Regions from separate parts of the Homo sapiens genome. Here region 1 is linked to region 2. A link means that fine-mapping ties the variant in region 2 to the expression of a gene that starts in the linked region. Tissue or cell type: whole blood. Region 2 holds a variant in brackets; the other region holds the start of a gene. All regions are shown on one strand. Distances are from middle to middle.

The links. PIP is the estimated chance that this variant, and not a neighbour inherited with it, causes the effect.
Region 1: LAPTM5 starts here. The variant in region 2 is fine-mapped to the expression of LAPTM5 in whole blood (TOPMed, PIP above 0.99).

Annotation. Positions count from the first base shown.
Region 1 is chr1:30,752,961-30,762,743 of GRCh38, forward strand. It overlaps LAPTM5 (lysosomal protein transmembrane 5), which reads right to left and starts at 4,814. Exons shown (of 8, transcript NM_006762.3): 1 at 4,699-4,814. The coding sequence starts at 4,785. RefSeq lists enhancers at 2,085-2,434, 2,906-2,955, 3,621-4,417, 4,546-4,825, 5,894-5,963.
Region 2 is chr1:30,728,727-30,738,509 of GRCh38, forward strand. It overlaps LAPTM5 (lysosomal protein transmembrane 5), which reads right to left. Exons shown (of 8, transcript NM_006762.3): 6 at 8,878-8,973; 7 at 6,447-6,539; 8 at 3,743-5,191. The coding sequence ends at 5,102. Among named protein-coding and RNA genes, the nearest start is that of MIR4420, 5.6 kb to the right of the region's middle. RefSeq lists enhancers at 1,487-1,616, 1,767-1,876, 3,546-4,051, 4,052-4,557, 4,598-5,099. The variant T/C (reference allele first, on the strand shown) is at 4,223.

The sequences.
Region 1 (9,783 bases), 24 kb after region 2:
CATGCCCAGCTAATTTTTTGTATTTTTAGTAAAGACAGGGTTTTGTCCTGACCTCAAGTGATCCACCCGCCTCAACCTCCCAAAATGCTGGGATTACAGGCATGAGCCACCGCACCTGGCCGTACTTTTTTTTTTTTCCAATTTAAAAGTAGTATACTTGAGCCACAAAGTAAAGTACCATTGGATTATAACCCAAAGCATACAGTAAAGATCCCTGGGTCCCTGTAATATAAATAAATCATTTATTTATATAATAAACTGGGAGTACAGACAAATCTCCTTGAGAAATTCCAAGTAATTTATGTAGCTACTCTGCCCTCAAGGAGGTGGGGCGGAACTCCCCATTCATCAAACTTGAGTTGCTTGGAGCAGCATAGTGACTTCCTTCTAAAACATACAGCATGGAAAGGAGAAAAAAAGAGTAACTTTACAAAGGAGTAACCTCAGCCGGGGGCTCAAAGTCACCAGCAACAGTGGTAAGTCAAGTTGGCAGAACCTTTTCTTAGTACGATGTTCTGAGACTGGCACATCATCTCTGTGGTCTTCCTCCCAAAAGCACATTCCCAGACTAATCATGAGAAAACCACCAGAGACCCCAGTTGAAGAACATTTGACAAAATGCCTGACAAATACTCCTCGAACTGTCAAGATTATCAAAAACAAGAAAAATCTGAGAAACCATCATACCAAGAGGAACCTAAGGAAGTGTGAAGACTAAATGTAACGCGGCATCCTGGATGCAATCTTGGAACAGAAAAAGGATGTAAGAGGAAAGCTGGGGAAATAGGGGTGAAGCACTGACTTTAATAACAGCCCACGAATATTCATTCACCCATTGCAACAAACGCACCACACTAACGTTGAGACGTTAGCAATAGAGGAACTAGGCATGGGGGACGCAAGAACTATCTGTACTGTGTTTGCAATATTTTCGTAAATCTAAAACCGTTCTAAGTACGTGCTCATTGTACCAAATATGGAAAATACAGAAAAGTAGAAAAAATAGAGCTTTCACTATCCTAGAACCCAAATACATTTCCTCCTCGCCCAGTTTTGACGTATCCTGTTTTGACACTGTTGAAATCATAGCAGGTGTTAAGTTTTTTAACCCAGACAATGCATTTCTGACAGTGGAATTCCGGGCACTCTGGGGAAGAGGGGTCAGGAAGAAAGAGATTTCTGGGCAAAAGTGTCTTCTGGGGGTGTCCACTTTCTACCATCGACTTAGAACGTGCTTCAGGTTGACAAAAAGCCAGGACCCAAGAGACCCAATTTAAGAAATTTCTCTAGACTGGGCTCGGTGGCTCATGCCTGTAATCCCAGCGCGTTGGGAGGCCAAGGCAGGAGAATCACTTGAGGCCAAGGGTTTGAGACCAGCCTGGGCAACATAGTGGGACCCTGTCTCTACAAAAAAAAATATTTAAAATTAGCTGGCCATGGTGGCATGCGCCTGTGATCCTAGCTACTCAGGAAGCTGAGGTGGGAGGATCTCTTGAACCCAGGAGTTCAAGGCTGCAGTGAGCTGTGATGGCACCACTGCATTCCAGCCTGGGTGACAGAGCAAGACCCCATCTCTTAAAAACAAAAACAAAACAAAACAAATCAAACCACAAAAGATGGGCAAGTTACTGAACTTTGAAAAAAAGAATAGATTTTTTAAAAAAAGAAAGAAAGTTTGCTGGGTTCCCAAAGTGTGCAAGTTTGGGTGACCCAGAGAATCCTCTACACAAACCCACTGACATCCTGAGGAAGATGCCCGAGCCCAAAGCTACGGACCAGGCTTCCCTCATGTAATAACGCCCTCATGACTCAATAGAGCGTGGCACTGTCTCAGGATGGCAAGGTCTCAATTTAACCCTCCCTAGAGGGGCCAAGTCCACAAATAGCTCATGATGTGCAGAGTCGTCACCCATGGCTGGGTCCAGATGACAGCCAGCATGGGCTATTGACACATCTGGACCACAGCTTCTCTTTTTCCATCCAGATGCTCAAGGTCCTATCAGCACACCTGTTGCCAGCTAGCCTATGGGAAAGCCCCCAGGCCCTGCCCTTTCTGGGAAGGAGAGAGGACTCTTTCGGGGTGCAGGAAGATAACCCCCCACTGGAGTCAACTGAGGACCACAGCCTGGAGACAACCTGGGCCGAGCGCACAGCTTCCAGGACACCCCTCTGCTCTTTTGCTTGCTCCTGCTCTAGAACGTCTCATCACTCATAGGCATTGGTTCTCAACTGGGAGAGATTGGGCCCCATAACTAGAGACATTTTTGGTTATCACAAGTGGCAGGGTAGGGAGATGGGCAGTGCTGCTAGTATCTAGTAGGTAGAGACCATGGATGCTGCTGAACTTCCTCTAACGCACAATTCACTCCCCCAAGATGAAGAATTATCCAGCCCAAAATATCAATGGTGCACTGCAGAGAAGATCCAACTTCTTAGCTTGTCACTCAAAACCTTTATCACCTCCTCCCCAAACTCCAGGTTTGTCTCTATTGTGTCCCTGTAGAAGCCGAACACATACGCCATTGCTCACCTGTTTCTCCTCACCTTCCATACTGCCCACAACCAAACTCTCCCTCCTGCCAATGGCACCACCTCCAAGAAGTCTTCCATGATTGCTAGGGCCCACACATTCTTCAGCTCTGTGAGCAGGGACCGTATATCACACCACCATTTACAGGTGAGGACATCGGATGGCACGATCAACAAGAAACCTTAACAGCCCCACAGTCCCGGGTTTGCAGGGCAGCCTCTGGGCCCACACAACCTGCAAATGGATTTGACTTGGCCTGCACTGAGATTTTTTTCTACCATGCATCAATCACTAGCATTGAAACATCAGAAGATGTGACACAAAAGCCTGCTCCCTATTCTCTAAACATCAGAAGAGCGGCCACCAGGGCCCACAATCCTTCGTGGCAACAACAAGCAAAAACAGAGAACAGCTGCAGGGTGGGCCAAGCAAGGGCTCCCGGGGTCACCGCAGGCCCCATCTGCCCCCTGCTGTCACTCACATGGCCTGCCCAGACCCTAGAGGCATCAGAGTTGGAGACCTCTGAGCCAGTCAACATCACCTTACCCCTGACTTTATAAAAGGGAAACTGAGGCCCAGAGAGAGGCTTGTCTGAGCCCATACAGCCAGTTAGTGGCAGGGCTGGGGTGAGGACCCAGGGACTTGCTACCTGTGAGGCGCCCCTGCATGCCACACTGTCCTTCTAAGAATGTGCATAGTCTCAGAGCTTGAAGGCCTAAAATACAGGGTACAGGGACACTCAAAGAGTGATTTGCTTCTCTCAGCTCTTGCATTGGCAGGAGCTCGGAAGGACAACCTCTGAGTTCCTCCTCCCAAAACTAGAGTCCTTGAATCTGACAACTTGACTCCAAGGATGCTGACAGCAGGTGCCATGTCTGATGCACAACGAATAATAAAGCACTCACCTGTGCGTCAGGCGTGGTTCTGCATGCTTTGTATGTATCAACTCCCTGAGCCTCACAACAAACCCTATCAGATGGGTATGATAATTCACATCCCCATTTTTTTAAATGAGAAAACTGAGGCTCAGAGAGGTTAAGTAAATTGCCCAAGGCTGCAGAGCTGGGAAGCAGGGAAGCCAGGATTTGCATGCAGGAGTCTGCATCCAGAGGCCGTGGGCTAACCACTGAACAGCATCGCCCCCCTGAAGGCTGGGCTCTTGCCACAGCTCTGCCTGCCCTGCCTGTGACAGGAAGCAGACGCAGGCAGGTCTGAGTTTGCAGCAACCCACCGCAGCATGTGGATCTAGGCTAATTTTGAGGAAGCCCTTCCAGACTCATGAGAAAACTGTTAACCACAGGCCCTGAGTCACCCCAGGAGGAAGTCGCTTGGGTCTAGGGGAGATGAGTGTGGCCAGGAGTTTGGGAGTAGGGTGGGTCTAGGCAGGACAGTACAAGGACACTGACCCTCAGCCACCCCAGGCAGAGGGGCAGCCTTGGCCCCCGGGCACTGTGACTTGCCCAAGACCACACTGTGAGTCACCAGGAAAGGAGGAACCAGTGACAGCCGTGACTTCACAAGTTGCCCAACAAGAGCTTGGGCCGGACAAGTTACCCTAATGATTAGCACAGGTCTCAAGTTCTCTTTGGTGGGCAGAAGGCCGTGGTTTGACTGAGCTGGAAGCTGAGAGGACACGGCCCCTGCCTCCCCACTGGAGGCACAAAGGGGAGATCCCCACTTCTCATCCCCTCGAGTGGCCCAGGCTCCCTCCAGGCCCCAGGGGAAGAATCGGGGCTGTGTCTGCGGCCGACCTCACATCCCGGTCAAACAATCCCAGCCCACGTTCCTCCCAAGATCCCTGCCTTCCAAAGCACTTTCACATCTGCTGTTGGCTTTGCACACAAATAACCTTCCGGCTGCTGCTGTGCCCCATCTCACAGAGGCAGAAACGGAGCCAGCCTCGGAGTGAACGTCAGTTACATTTGCCTGGAAAGTGGATTCCAGCTCCCTTACTCCTCACTCTTGCGGCATCTCCCCAGGGTACCCCCAGCCATTTGACAGAGAAGGAAACTGAGGCCCAGAGCAGGACAGGGATTTGCCCAGGGTCCCCCAGAGAGGTGGAGAGCAGGAGTTCTTTCATTTGTGGGGCTCCGTAGATGACGGGTCACCGCAGACATTCACACTCACACAAGCACGCACGCACACACACCCGGGGCCCGCACACTCACCACATGGTAGATGGCCAGGGCGGTGGTTGCGATGCGGACATTGAAGCAGCAGCAGGTCTGGCGGACAGTGGACAAGCGGGGGTCCATGGTGCTGCCGTCCCCTCCTCTGAGACACTGAAGGGGAAAGAGCCTGGTGCCTGGAGCAGGGCAGAGAAGGGGAAGCTGCTGGCTGCCCTCCTCACTTCCTTCCTGCCCCTTAGACAGGCAGGGACAAGGTCGTCACAGCTGGGGCGGGGCAGCTGGGGAGGGGGAGTGGGGACAGGGCAGCAGCCTGCCTCAGAGCACCCCACTGCCCTCTGCCATTCCCAGGAGGGGGTTCCAGAGAGGACAGACCCTAACACGGTCATCATGCCCTTCTCTGCACCAGGGCCAGGGTTCCACCGTTTCACACAGCTTGCTTACTAGAAGAACACTACCAACTTTGGAAGCCAGGACTGTTACCAAGCCCATTTCCAGATGAGGAAACAGCTGTCCAGAGAGGTCAAGGCACTTGCCCCAAATCACACAGTAGTTAGCACTGGTGGCAGAATTCAAACCCAGATCTGTCTGGCTGCAAAAATAGCTATTGTCTAGGAGGCATTTCCTGCCTCTTCCAGGCATGCTCCTGGATTCACTCCTTTCATCCTCACCTCAATCCTTTGAGAGAGGTACTATTATGATCCCCATTTTACAGATGAAGAAACTGAGGCACAGAGAGGGGGAATGATTCGTGCAAGGTCACACAGCTAGTCAATGAAGGTGCAAGGATTTTAACTGAGGCTGACTGGTGCTAGAAGCCTCCCTGGAGCTGGTGTTCTCTCCCACTTCCTCACCCTGAGCCGCAGGGAGAAGCTTGTTCTTCCTAAGCTACGAAGAGGCGTGCAGGGCTCCAGACAAGGACGGAAGAATAACCAGGAAGCAAACCCATCAACTGTGCGCCAGGCCCTGGGCTAGGCTTCTCTTCTAGGTGGGTCAATAACTCTTCACAGCAATCTGTGAGACCCGAACCTCACTTTCAGGGCCTCAAGACCCAATCCCCATACTCACACAAAATCAGGGATTGCTTTTCCCCCTTGATCTTGCAAAAAGTTGGAATTAATAAGCCACAACTCTTAGGCAAGCTACCCTGGAATCTCTACTCCCTCCTCAGATGATAAATTATCCATATTGCAATAAAGAAAGGGAATAGGAAGTACATGCAACATTTCTGGAAGAAGCCCTGCTTCATTCCACAGCTGAGCCCCTTTGCAATGCCAAGCTTCTAGTGCAGAGCAGACAGGAACTGCCATGAAGCCCTGCCCTCCCAGGAGATCATGGAGTTAGGATTGGACACTGCTGCAGCCCATCATTTCTGCCCCAGGAGAGGTTATAGAAAGTCCCTAAGCTCCTCCCACTTGGCAGGAGTTGCTCTGTTAGACCCACAAAACTTGATTGGTGGACTTGATCAATCCATTCTCCATGTGCCAATGAGACCAAGGGGACTCTGCAAGCTTTGGGCTCCTGGGAGGCCTGGCCTATCCCTTCCCAACTTCATTTTCAAGGCTGTTCCTGTTCCTTCATAAGCCTTGCTGAGGCCTGACATCATAGAAAGGTGACACAGTGCAGTGGTTAAGAACTTTGGCTCCACAGGCCCATGGCCTGGGATCTTCTGGCTGGGTAGGCAGAAAACCAAGAGAAGTCCTCCTTTGTCTAAGAGTAGCAAGACCAGAGGAACTGGAGATCAGGAAACCAGGGGCCAGGAGGGCCCTGAGGCCATGCTGGGGAGTCTGCATTTGATTGTGCACAGAAGCCATTTGACGATTTCCTACCATAATAAATGATAGCCATTCATAACATTGTGATTTGGTGAAACCAGGACAGGTGCAAAGCCAACTCCCAAAGAGAGGGATGAAACACACTGACAGCATGTGGAATAATTGTACATGGTCTATGGGTAAACATTTCTCATTTTTTATGGTGATAAATTCATTTTAATGTGCATTATAAAAATATACATAACTAGTCCATGAATCCTGTGATTTTCCATTTATAGGAGTAATATAAAGTCTCATTTTAAAAGAAATGCATTTAAATAAAAAAGGCAGTAAGTCAATTTAAAGAACATATTAAGGAAGCCACAGCCTAGGAGGACGCAGATGTGGCAGACAGCCCTGGAGGTGGAGTAGGTGGCATCCGTTTGGGAATCCTGGGGCATGGGGAATCCCAGCTCCCCACTTAGTAGCTGTGTGGTGTCAGACAAGGCACTTGATCTCTCTGAGCTGTTGTTTTCACCTCTGCAAAACGGCGGGGCGGTTGGGGGGAACAGAAATTTGCCTGGCAGGGCTGCGGTGAAGGTGAAATGAGGTCACGTGAATGCATCTGTTTGTTTTCTCCCTTCCAGCCCGTCCCTGCTCCCCGATCTCACCCGTACTCAGGCTGCTAGGAGGAGGCAGAGCTGGGATTGAACCCCTGATCTGTCTGATTCTGAGTCCCCTCGGGCACTACCTCCCTCGCAGAAGCAGGAGTTCTGATGCAGTCATTTGTCTCTCACCGGGTCACCAGGCTCCAGCACACACTGGCCCCTTGGCAGGCACCTCAGTCACTCCCTGTGGAGTACAAGCCTGAATCACTTTATTGTCATTCCCAACAAACCCCCTGTGGAGAGGACGGCTATTATCCCAAAGGTCAGACCCTTTGGCCAAAGCCACTGTGATAGGCAGAATAGTGCCTCTCACCCCCCAAAAAAAATCCACCCTAATCTCTGGAACCTGTGCGTACATGGCCTTACATGGCAAAGAAACTTCACAGGCGCCATGAAATTCAGGATCTTGAGGTGGGTGGGGAGATTATCCTGCATTATCTGGATGGCCCTGAGGTCATCAAATGGGTCCCCATAAGTGAAGGAAGATCAGAGTCAGAGAGGGAGTGGAAGATGCCACACTCCTGGCTCTGCAGTTGGAGGAAGAACCATGAGCCAAGGAGTGCAGGCGGCATCCAGAAACTGGAAAAGGCAAGGAAATGGCTTCTCCTCTAGAGGCTCGAAAGGGAATCACTTTCATTTTAGCTCAGCGAGGCGCATTCCTGACTTCTGGCCTCCAGAACTGTAAGACAATAAATGTCTGTTGTAGTCACTGTGTTTCTGGTCTTTTATTATAGCGGCCGCAGGGAACAAATACAGCTGCTCAGTGGAAGCAACAGCTGAGCCTGGGGCCCCGTCGCTGGAGCCCAACACACTCCACCGAGACCACAGTCCCCATCTGCACAAGTGCAGCCCTTACTTCCTTGCTGTGTGACCCCAGCCAAGTCGTGAACTTCCCTGAGCCTCCGCTTCCTCCTGCGCCAAGCGGGGATAATGATAATGCCCATCTCGTTGTCTGTACATGCAGGTGGCAACACCACATAAGCTCACTATTTATATTCTGCTGTTTTCCGTTACGAATGATAAGTTTTGAGCTTCTTCAAGTTGCTTTTCATACCTTCTTTGTGGAGTGGTAGAACCCTTGAAAACTTCAGACCCTCTGAATTCATCAAGATAAGGACAAGGAAATGTTCCATGCCACCGCAGCCACGGCAGAGCAGATACAAATCTGCTTGTCAAACTGCCCTTGTCAATGTTATTTCTGACAAAGGAATCTTCTAAGACCCCCTGACTTCAGACATGGTTCCCAGATCCTAGAGAGTCATCTTTAATCCTGAAAAGGTCTGTAATTCTGGCTGGTTATCTGGCTTAATAATTTGCTGCCATGGTATATGAATATTTAAACAGACAGCTCTGTTTCCTCAAAGGCAGAATTAGTTGTAAGCTTTCTTTGTTAAGTCAGAAGAACATCACTGGAACTTCCCTCTTCACCCATAGGCCTGGAGGTAAAAATAAAACCCACGACTCTGCCAGCTTTTGTATTTAAACAAAGAGTTTGGGAGTCTTGTGTCCTTTCCATTAACCTAGATGAAGCACTTAGAAGGGGCTGGGTCACGGTAAGGACTGCACAGTGGGAAGCATTTTGATCACGATTGTCACTATGATTCTTCCTGTCCTTTAAACCCTTTCTCAGCTGAGCCTCCCCCAGCCCTAGCCAGCAGAGGAAGGCAGCAGAGAGGCACTGATCAGCTCCCGTAGACCCAAGGGGCCAGTGATCTGCTGCAAGACACACAGCTGGTCAGGAGCAGAGCCAGGACACAGGTCCTCCTTGGGGACAGCTTCGTGGGCGGCATGTGAGTGGTGGCAGCCAAGGTAGCTCCAGGGCTGTCTTCTCCCGAGGGGCTCCTGGGTGCCCCCTGCAGCTCACCCAGGCTGAAGGTCAGCTTCCTGCCAGACCACTGGCCTGTGATTCCCTTCTGGCTGCAAGCCCCACCTCACTTCTGCCTTTGAGGTTTGGGGCTGGAATGTGTAGGGCCAAAGCCAAAGGCCTGAAAAATGTGAGAAACGGCAGAGCATTCTCTCCTGTCTCCTGCCCCGAACCCAGCACGGTCACCAGGGGTCAGGGCCTACACGTGCAACCCACAGGGTCCCTCCCCTACTCCCCTGCCTGTGGAAGGGGCCCAGGCCTTGAAGTCAGCCTGGAGGGTCAGCCTGGCAAGGACAGCCCACAGGCCTGTGGCCTGGGGACAACCAGACCTTCCAATGACCAGCTGCTGAGTCCAGTGGGCAGGCAGGGGACCCCAACGGTCTGCCAGACACTCCAAGGAGGCCTCCCCTCAGCCAGGCAGTCCAGGGGTCCCTGGCTGCACCCAGGGGCACAATGACACCATATCCTAGTCTGCTGCTGCCACAGGCACTGCAGGCTGAAGGCTCCAGGGAGATGGGACCAGCAGGCAGAAGGAGCACTGGCTGCAAAGTCTGCATAGCCGAGCCAGCAGCCTCCTGCTGAATAACAGCTCTGGGCACACCCCAGGACGGAGCATTTTAGATCATGGGTGCAGCCGTACTATCCATGGGGAGCTGGAAAACCCGGCTCCCTCCTGGCCCTGGTCTCCAACCAGCCTCTGCCTCACTCTGAGCTGTAGAGTGGGGATTGTCATAGCGCATCCAGTGTGCTGCTGCAAGGACTAGGTAATTCCCTCCTAAGCACCAGCCTCTGCCAGAGCCCCCTCCTCCCTGCTGCTGACCTCATCCTCAGGAAAAACCTC
Region 2 (9,783 bases):
TTCTCAGGATACCCGGTCACATCTCCAGGCCTTGGCCCAGCTGTTTTCCAGCCTCGCATGTCCTCCCAGCACATAGAGCAGAGGAAGCAGCAGGCGAGTGTTCTGTTCGACTATCTGGGCCACTGAGATGGCAGCAAAATTGTTTCCCAGGTGGATGTTGTTTATTTATTTAGAACTGTGGCTCCCTCGTGCCAGCAGCTCTCTGCTATGCCCACTGACCATCGGCGTGCTCTTGGTGGCTAATTAGGGAGACTTCTTCCTGGGACCCGGGAGACAGACTGGAATGTGAGCACTGGTTCCCAGAGAGCCCATCCGGGAGGGCAGCGGGCAAGGCCTGTGGCTGCAGAGACACACAGTGGCTGCTGCTTATACCCTCCGCAGAGGCCCTGCTGCCACCCAAAGACCCAAGGAGAACCCGAGGGTGGGTCCTGCCCCTGACTTCCTTTAACCTGACTGCTTTTCTTGACACTTAAACGGTTTCATTGCAAATTGGAGACACTGCCAGAGTACCGGATTGGACATGAATCTCTGGTCTTCCCAAAAGTCAGGCAGAGATGTGGAGGGGCCCACAGTCACAGGGCAGATTCCTCACCTGCAAAGTGGCCATGCTCATCGCCCCATCCAGGAGCCTGCAGTGCAGCTGGGCTGCTCCTCCTGCCCAGGCCCCATTCGGGCCACAGACCCCATGATCTGAGGTGTCACATGTGGTTCATGACACCTCCCATGTGCTATCTTGGTCTCAGGCCCCACGCATGGTCAGCCAAACTGGAATCCAGGGTGAGGAGGCGTGTGCTTTCATCTGCCGGCCTGTCTGGGGAGGCCACGGAGCAGCAGCACATCCTTCTGATGGGTTAACACCTGGGTGATACCAGCCCAACCTGATATCCCACCCACATGTCCAAAGATAGCACTCACATCTCAACCTGCCTCCCTCCTCGCTCTCCTAAACTCCAGACCTAGAGACCCAGCTGCTTCCTGAGCACCTCCCATTATATGTCCCCCAAGGAAGCGCAAATCTAGCCCCACCAAAACGCGATGCATCCTTTGCCATCCCCCGTTTCGCATCCTCTGCTCAGAGCTGGGCACCACCATCCGAGGGTCCGCAACATCCAAAAGCTCCCTGCTGCCTCTGAGGCCTCCTGCTTCTGCCAGGGCCCTCCCAAGAGGGCTCAGAGCCTGGAATAGGAATTAAATGAGGGCCTTGTGAGGTAGAAATTCCCAGAGGAAGGGCGAGGTTACCCAGAAAGGTCTAGAGAGACAAGCTCAGGTCCATTTGGGTGGACTGAAGTCCAAGCCCAGGTCTGCCCCTTGGCCAATGCGTGACTGTGGGCAGAGGCAGCCCCTCCCTGAACCTCAGGAATGATCACCACCCAGCACCTGCTGCGTGAGGCCACTGGGAGCTTTGTGGAGCCAGCACACTGAAGGGCCCACTCAATTACGGGGACCCTTCCTGCTACCATCACAGCTCCCGAGAAACCTGAAGTTGCCCCGCTTAGCACCCCAGGTTTAATTTTACCAGCTCTTTTTTCCCTCCAAGAGACAACCACTCCAGGCTGCCCTCACCTGCCCAGGCCTGGAAGCAGCCCCCTCTGTCCTGGGGCCGGCTCCTTTCCAGGCATGAAGCTCAAACAGGCGCTGTCAGTGGGTCCAAACCATCGCAGCCCCGTCAAAGGACCCCTGTGTGAGCCTCAAACGGGGCATTGATAGGGCCTCAGTGAGGGCTGCCCAGGCGATCGTGGGCTCGCTTGGCTTGGCTAGCCATGCGGACTTCCCCAAACCCAGCTATTTCCTGTCCCTCGGGTGGCCCCCTCCCAGCTGCCTGGCCACAGGGCACAATCCCACTACACAGCTCAGCCTGTTCTTCGGCTCCAGGCCAGAGGTGGGAGTCGGGGAAGGCGGGAAGGACGGGAGAGTCGCGCCGGGAAGTTCAGGGCCTCCTGGTCCTTGTGACACACGCAGCCATGGCCCTTCAATCTCCTTGTGATAGGATGCAAGGCTGGGCCAATGTCTCTCCTCCCGTGACCTCTGCTCCCAATCCACACTTGCCGGGGCTTCTCAGCGGGCCCTCTTCCCATGGGTCTTTGCAAGAAGCAACAACTGACACAGACTGGGCCCCAGCCCGTCTAAAAGCCTCCACTCGGAGTAGAAAAAAAAGGTGCTTGGTCTCATCTCTGACCACTGTGTGGCCTCAGGAAAGTCACTTGATGTCTCTGGGCCTCTGCCCTCAAGTGTGAACAGGAGCTCGCTTTCCATTTCTGTGAATTACACTGCACCAACTGCTTGGGGGTCTGATAAGGAGCAAATAACATCCATGAAGAAATCTGCCATTCCACAAAAAAACTGACACCACCAGAAGGTTGACAATGCCTCTCAAACTCATCCCCGTCCCTGCCGCCCCATAGGATGACTTCCCCAGCCTTTGTAGGGGTCCCTGCATTTGGGCTCTTCCTTCCTAAAACCCAAACCTTGTAACTCCTTGGCCCAAAATCCTTCAAAGACACCTGTCTCAGGATTAGTCCATGTTCCTCGGTGTGACATTCAAGGCTCTGAGGGCTCTTTTGGTATTGGTGACAGATCCCAATTCAAACAGCCCTGGTCTCTTTATTAACTTTACTTTCAGGTAAGTCCTCAACAGCTCAGCCACACCGGGGAGAAAAGATAAGAGATGGAGAAACAGAGAGACATTATTAAAGAGTTGTAGTCCTGGATCCTGCCATACCTGAAGCCAAAAATCCCTGGATTTTTTATTTGTATGAGAGCCAAGAAACATCGTGAACCACCTTCTGGTTTCTCATAATAAACTTGGCTCATAAGGCTTCTGTTACTTGCAACCATGTCCTTCCTGTAAATTCCCTTCTTGGCTGAACTTAGCCAGGGTGAGCTTGCACCTAAAGAGCCCCACTGTGTGCAAACACTCTTCCTGACCCAGCCCCACAGCGGGCCGACCTCTTCTCCCTCCCCTCCCCACTTGCAGCCACGCTGAGCAGCTCGCCCCAGCTCCTCTCCCCAATGCCATAGAGTCTTTGCGTGTCCTGCTACCTAGACCTAGAGCACCCTTCCCATTCTGCTTACTGCTGCCTTCTCATCCTTCAGACTCCACTTGGTGACAGCCTCCAAGAGGCTTTCTCTGGCCCTCAGGCCACGTCTGAGGTCCCCTAGGCTTTCCCTATCGTGGCAGCCCTTTTGCAGATCTGTCCCTCCTACCGCAGACTGGGGGGAACTGGAGGCGAGTCTCATCTGTTGAGGTCTTCCCCAGTGTCCAGAGCAGGACCCAGCCCCAGGGGAGTGGAGTGCACGCCTGATTAGGGAGACATCAGGGTGCATCATCTTGGGCTGTGGTTCATGATCAGACAGCATTGGGTCAGGACCACCCCTCGCTCAGCATGGCCCATGGGAGGAGTTTCTGGATGGAGCAACTAGGTATGTGTGAGTGTTTACATGGGTGTGTGGGGGTGGGCGTGTGTGGAGGGGTGTGGGGGGTGTGAGTGTGTGGGTATATGGGGGGTGTGTGGGTGTGTAGGCGGTGGGAGTGAGTGTGTGGAGGGGTGTGGGGAGGGTGTGAGTGTGTGGGTATGTGGGGGGAGTGTGGGTGTTTGGGTGTATTTGTGGGTGTGTGGGGGTGGGTGTGAGTGTGTGGAGGGGTGTGGGTGTAGGGGGTGTGGGTGAGTCCTGGGGTGATGGAGGTAGAAGGCTGGTCTCCACCCTCCCTACACTGTATTTCCAGAAACACATCAGCCAGACAGAAGCTTGTTGCTGCTTTATTGAAACTTCCTCCCTGTCGCACACAAAGCAATTACACAAGGGGGTATTGCCAGGGAGCTCTTGCAGAGCCTTCTCCCTCTGTACCCCCCGACAGTCCCCAGAGACCCTGCCTCCGTGGCCTCCACCTCTGGGTCAGCTCCCTGGAGGACCCCGACACACAGGGAAGCAGGCACAGGAGGGCTGTTGGGGCCAAACCTCCCCAGCTGCCACAACCGCCATGACCCCAGTGGCAGGGTCAGTGCCCACAAGGGGGTTGCCTGCTTTGACTGAACTAACCTGTGGGTTTAGTCCAACGAACAGATGTGCCTGATTTCAGGGCTGAATTTTTGCTTGACCACAAGCCTCGGGCAGAACAGATTCGCCTATGACTGAATCGACTGAATGGATGGCCAGCGACAGCCTGGCCTGGGAATGGACTGGCAGCTCATCACTAAAATGACTCCTTTCATGGAATCCACTG[T/C]TATGCAGCCACACTGACCACAGAGCAACTGAATAGGTGAGCATTGGATTGTTGATGACAACTCTTCAGCAGAACAATTGTGTGTTTGAAGGGACTGTTTTATGATGAAATAACTGTTATTTCCTGGAGCTAATTGTTGAATGACAGTTTGTCAACTGTTTAAATGAATTTCATTTGAATTAACAATTATACAGCCACTCAGAGGTCCTACATTCGCCAGAGTTGGCATCCAGTTGATGGGTTCATTTGAATTAAATGGTTTGGAGGCTAACGTGATTTTTTAAATTGAATTTCATCACTATTCTGTGTATTCTATTTATCACTATTCTAAATGACTCATGGTTGGCTAATTGATTATCATGTAAGCAAGCTATTTGAAGAAATTGATTACATATATTTATATATAGGGGGTAACTAATTAATGATTACTTGATTAAATTGCTATGTGAACTGACAACTATTTATAAATCAATGCAATAGACTGTTGTTTGACCAAATTATTTTACTGAACTGACAAGTGGGTTTTTGATTTGTCAGTTGCTTGGCTGAACTGATCAAGTCGATAGTTGCTTGACAAACTCACCAACTTTAGAATGGCCAATCGTCTAAACAAGTGTCAGAGCTGATTGAAATAAACCAAGCATTGTTGGGCTGAATTATGGAGAGACCCGAGGAGTGACTCAGCCTAAAGCGTTGACCCAGTTGTGAGCAGCTCACAGGCCCTGCAGGAGGAGCAGGCCAGCGAGGGAGACACAAGCAGATTGTCCTGCCAGGGAGGGGCGGGAGGGCCCACCCAGGCCACAGGGGCCACCAAAGCAAAAAAGCAGATTATGAGGCAGCTCCACCCCTCCCAGCACTGGGGCTGGGGCCTGGCGAGGGTCACACCTCTGAGTATGGGGGTGGTGCTGGGCCCCCCTCTGGGGTCTTCGATGGCAAAGACAGGGCTTCCTCGTAGGACGGCAGGACCACCTGGGAGAGACAGAGAGATGAGGGCTGAGTATGGTCAAGAATGACCTGCAATTCCAACCTGGGGTCATGGGACCCAAACCCCCACCTCTGGCAAAATGATGATGATAATGACTGGCAGGTCTTGGATATTTGCTATGTGCTAGACATTGCCTGCATGAGATAGGTGCAGTTCCCAGCCCTGTAGTGGACATATTTGCCTTTGCCTATTCAGCATCAAGTCCCCCTTATTTTGAAAACAGTGCACCATTTTCCTTGGGAAAACATTCTCAGTCCATATACCTTCAGAAGAACTGGTCCCATCCCTCAGATCCAGCGAGGTGGCTGGACTTGGCCACTCAAAGTAGAATTCCATCCCCCTGGCTATAGTCCTTGGTTTGGGGATAGGCACGTGGCCCAAGTTGGTCCAATCAGACATACTCCTGGGACCTTCTTTTTCTGTTGGGATTTCTGAGAGGGTGGGATATCTGCCTAGGGGTTTTGGCAGCCTTTTTGCCACCACAAGGGATGGGCTTCCGGAAAATGAAGCCAACATCAAGGAAAGTAGAGTCAAGAGTTGGAGAGGACGAGATCATATCCTGATGTCAGGACTCAGCCAGGCCCAAGCCAGACCTACATTTGGCTGCTAAGTTCTGTGAGCTAGTAAATTCCTGAAGTCAGATTGAGTTGGGTTTCTGCCACTTGCAACCAAAAGTGTCTTAGCTAATACAATCTCCACCTTACAGGTGAGGAAAGTAAGTTACCAGGAATTTAAACCGTCACTTTCCAATAAGCTGCTTCTAAGCACACCTCATCCTCTCTTCCCGGAAAGCCTCCTTCTGCTTTCCCAGCTATCTCATATCCATTGACCCTCCAAGACCAGTTAACTGTCACCTCCTCCAGGAAGGCTTCCCTGATACCTGAGAAGAGGCCAGGTCCTTCCTCTGTGCTTATTGTCCCTGTGCTTCACACCAAGTTGTAATTGTATCTATGTGTCTGAACTGTACACTCCTCTAAGGCAGAGGTGGCATCTTAGTTTTCTCTGCGCCTCCTGGAATCGATATGAGACTAGCAAAGAGTGAGAGGCAGTAAATACTGAATAAATGAATGAGTGAGTGAATGAATCTTAGACTACCAGAACTGAAAGAGAACACATTTCTTCTGTTCCAACCCTCATCTTACAAATAGAGAAACCAAGGTCCAGAGAGGGAAGGAAACTTGACCCAAATGGCACAGGGAGTTAGTGACAGGGCTGGCACCCACCTGCAGCCACACTCACCTTCTGGAGCATCTTGGAGTTTCTCTTCTCCTCCACCGAGTTCATGCACTTGATCAATCTGTAGCACCGCCACACGCACTTGAACATGTAGACCTGGAAAAAGGCCCAGGTCAGGCTGTGCTTTGCTGAGCGTCCTTCTCACGCTCCAGCAGGCCTAGGACATATGCCAGGCAGGAGCCACCACTCTCTCCAGAAGCCAGCATCCAGCTGCTCCTGCTCGGACCTCTCATTCTGGTTGGGGGTTCCTCACCAGCCAGTCCAGAATATTCCAGGTATTGCCCTTTTCATTGCCCCACAGATACCACATAGCAAGGGGATTTGGGGGGCTTCTAGCCCACCCTCCAATTTCCCTGGCAATAGTCCCACAGCTCCTGCTTGACTGCCCACACTGCCTGGAAGCTCACTACCTCCTGAGACAGCCCTGCCCATCTCGAAACAGAGCTGATGGTGGGACATGTTTTCTTCAAAATTGCTTCCGATATGTTGTTTTCTGAAGCAGATTACAAAACAGCATGTGCAGTATTGGTCCATGTTTATAAAGGAGGAACAGTTAGTACATGTCCATCAGCTGATGCAAGTTAATGTAAGAATTGGGCAGAAGCTTTCCAGAGTGGGGCATACAATCCCAAGGGGCAAGCTCAAGAAACAACAGAAAACCCCCAGGATGCCCCCTGAGTAAGAGGAGAGGGTCCTGTACTGGAAGGTCTTGTTTGATGGATTCCCTGATGGGCACATAGGTGGGGCAAGGAGACATATGGAGGTACGGAGTGACAAAGAATGAAGCATGAAGGCCCAGGGAAAATCAAGTCGGTGGAGGGGGCCAGAGAGGCAGAATGAGGGTCAAAGAGGGAAGCCCCTCATTCTGGAGGATAAAAAACAGAAGGGGAGCTGGGGGACGGAGCTGTGTGCTGGGGTCTGCGGAGGGGTCCTGCAGTAGAGAGTGCCATGGAAAGCCCACACTGGCTTCCCCCATGAGGCCTTCAGGGGTGTTCTCACTGTACACTCACTAGTGCGTTTGTGCTAGGTCAGTCCTTGGAGAAGATGCTAAAAGGGGCAAGGTTCTGTTTCTAGGTTGGCATTAGGTGACAGCAGAGACTGCCCAGGGCCTCAGATGGAAGCAGGAGCTGGGGTCTGCAGATGCCCACCCACCACCACAGAAAGGCTGGGGGGAAATGCACCCAGTTGTCAGCAGTGATGCTCTCTGTGTGGGGTGTGGATGGTGGAGTGCTTGTCTTCTTTCTACTTATCTGTAGTTTTTTGGTTTTTGTTTTTTGTTTTAGAGAGAGATTCTCACTCTGTCGCCTAGGCTGGAGTGCAGTGGCATGATTATGGCCCACTGCAGCCTCAACCTCCCAGGCTCAAGCGATCCTCCCGCTTCAGCCTCCCTAGTAGCTGGGACTACAGGCACACGCCACCACATCCAACTTTTTTTTTTTTATGTTTTGTAGAGACAGAATCTTGCTATGTTGCCCAGGTTGGTTTTGAACTCCTGGCCTCAAGCAATCCTCCCAATTCAGCCTCCCAAAGCACTGGGATTACAGATGTGAGCCACCACATCCAGCTCATCTGTAGTTTTTAAATTTCTACTATGACCTATGTTACTTTTATAATCAGAAAAGAACACTTTTTAAAAGCCCTTCCTTCTGTGGTCATCAGCATCCCTGTGGCTTCAGGCCACAGGCCCCCATTGTGGCCTCTAGGATCCCACAAAATTCCCCACAAGAGTTCTTCAGGTATTAAGAAACAGCAGTCAGGTCCCCCTTGAGTCCTCTATTTTCCATGCTGAATAAACGCTCAGGTCTTTGTTGGGTTTTGTGGGGGTTTTTTGACTTCCTAAGATGGCAGCGTTTTCTTGTCTCTTCACGTTGCTGGTTGTACTGCTGTGAACACACTCCAGTGCTTCACCATCACTCAGACCTGGGACCTGAAGCTGGACCCTATCCTCTGGGCCTGACCACCCCAGAGAAGAATGAGACCATTCCCCTCCTGCCTTCTCATCACCAAACCTCTATTAACATAATCTCAGGTACATTTTGATGCCTGAATTACATAAAACTGTAACACAGGCAAAACAAGACTCCTGCCCCTGAGGCCCAGAGAGAAGTGACTTGCTGAAGACCAACCACGCAGCTAGTGACAGTGGGGCTTGGATTCAAACGCAGGCCAGTCCAAATCTAATTCCAGACAGCTGGAATTAGACATCTGAACGCAGGTGGCCTTTACGGATTCACATGCCCTAAATGGGCTGTCTCGGAGGATCCCAAGTAAAGTCAGAGGAGCTGGCATGGGAAAGCAAGAGAAAGGAGCTAAAAGCAGGAGAGGAGGCATGGAGGACACATGTCCCTGCCTTCTAACAGCTTGGCATGGGCAGGCCTGGGCCCAGCACAGCCTCACCACCCCTCCCAGAGCCGCAGGGCAGGGATCCACTCACCTTGAAGATAAGGACAGTGATGAAGGCGATGGAAAAGATGATCATCATCTTGATGAACTGGTTATGAGGCATATCCTCCTGGCTGGGGAGGTAATTCTGCAACAGATTTGGGGGCCACATCAATGTCTCTGGACATAAGGAATTCCAACAGCACCCACACATCCGGGAATAATGATCCCACCCTCCACACACACACGAGCACAGCGTGGCACAGCCGTCACCTTGGTCGACCGCCACAGCAGCCTTAGGAAGCAGGTGCTACCTTCAGCCCCATCCCACTGACGGGCAAACCAAGAAAAGCCAAGTGGCTACTATCTCCAGATCTGCTTCCCAGGCTGGCGCACCGGCCCATCCCCAGCTGGCAGGTGTCAGCTGCCCATGGGCCACACCTATGCTCTTCTCTACAAGATCATTTTGGCTGACAGGGACCACCTAATCCACTAATACCTGGGAGGTTACATTCCCTCCCCTAGGGGCAGCTTGAAACCAATGACTGATGCAGGGGAACTCGCCCTAGGTGAGACTGCCTCTGTGGTCATTTGCAAATATTACCACACATTCTTTGAGACGCCTCCCTTCTAAAGGTGGTGTTTATTTCCTCTCCCCTTGAGTGTGGGCTGGACTTAGCAACGCACTTCTAACTAACAGAATGTGGCAGAAGTGATAGAAGTCTTAAAAGACACTGCCTTTCCTCCTTGCTTATCTCTTACATCACTCCCGCAGGGGAAGCCAGCAGCCATGTCAGGAGAGCACTCAAGCAGCACTACTACAAGTCCACAGGATGAGGAATTAGGCAAAGAGCCCACGCCCTGTGAGTGAGCCACCAGGAGTTCATCCTTCAGATCTAATCAAGCCCTCAGTTGTCCACAGCCCCAGGTACCATCTCTGGTGCAGCCCCACCAGAGT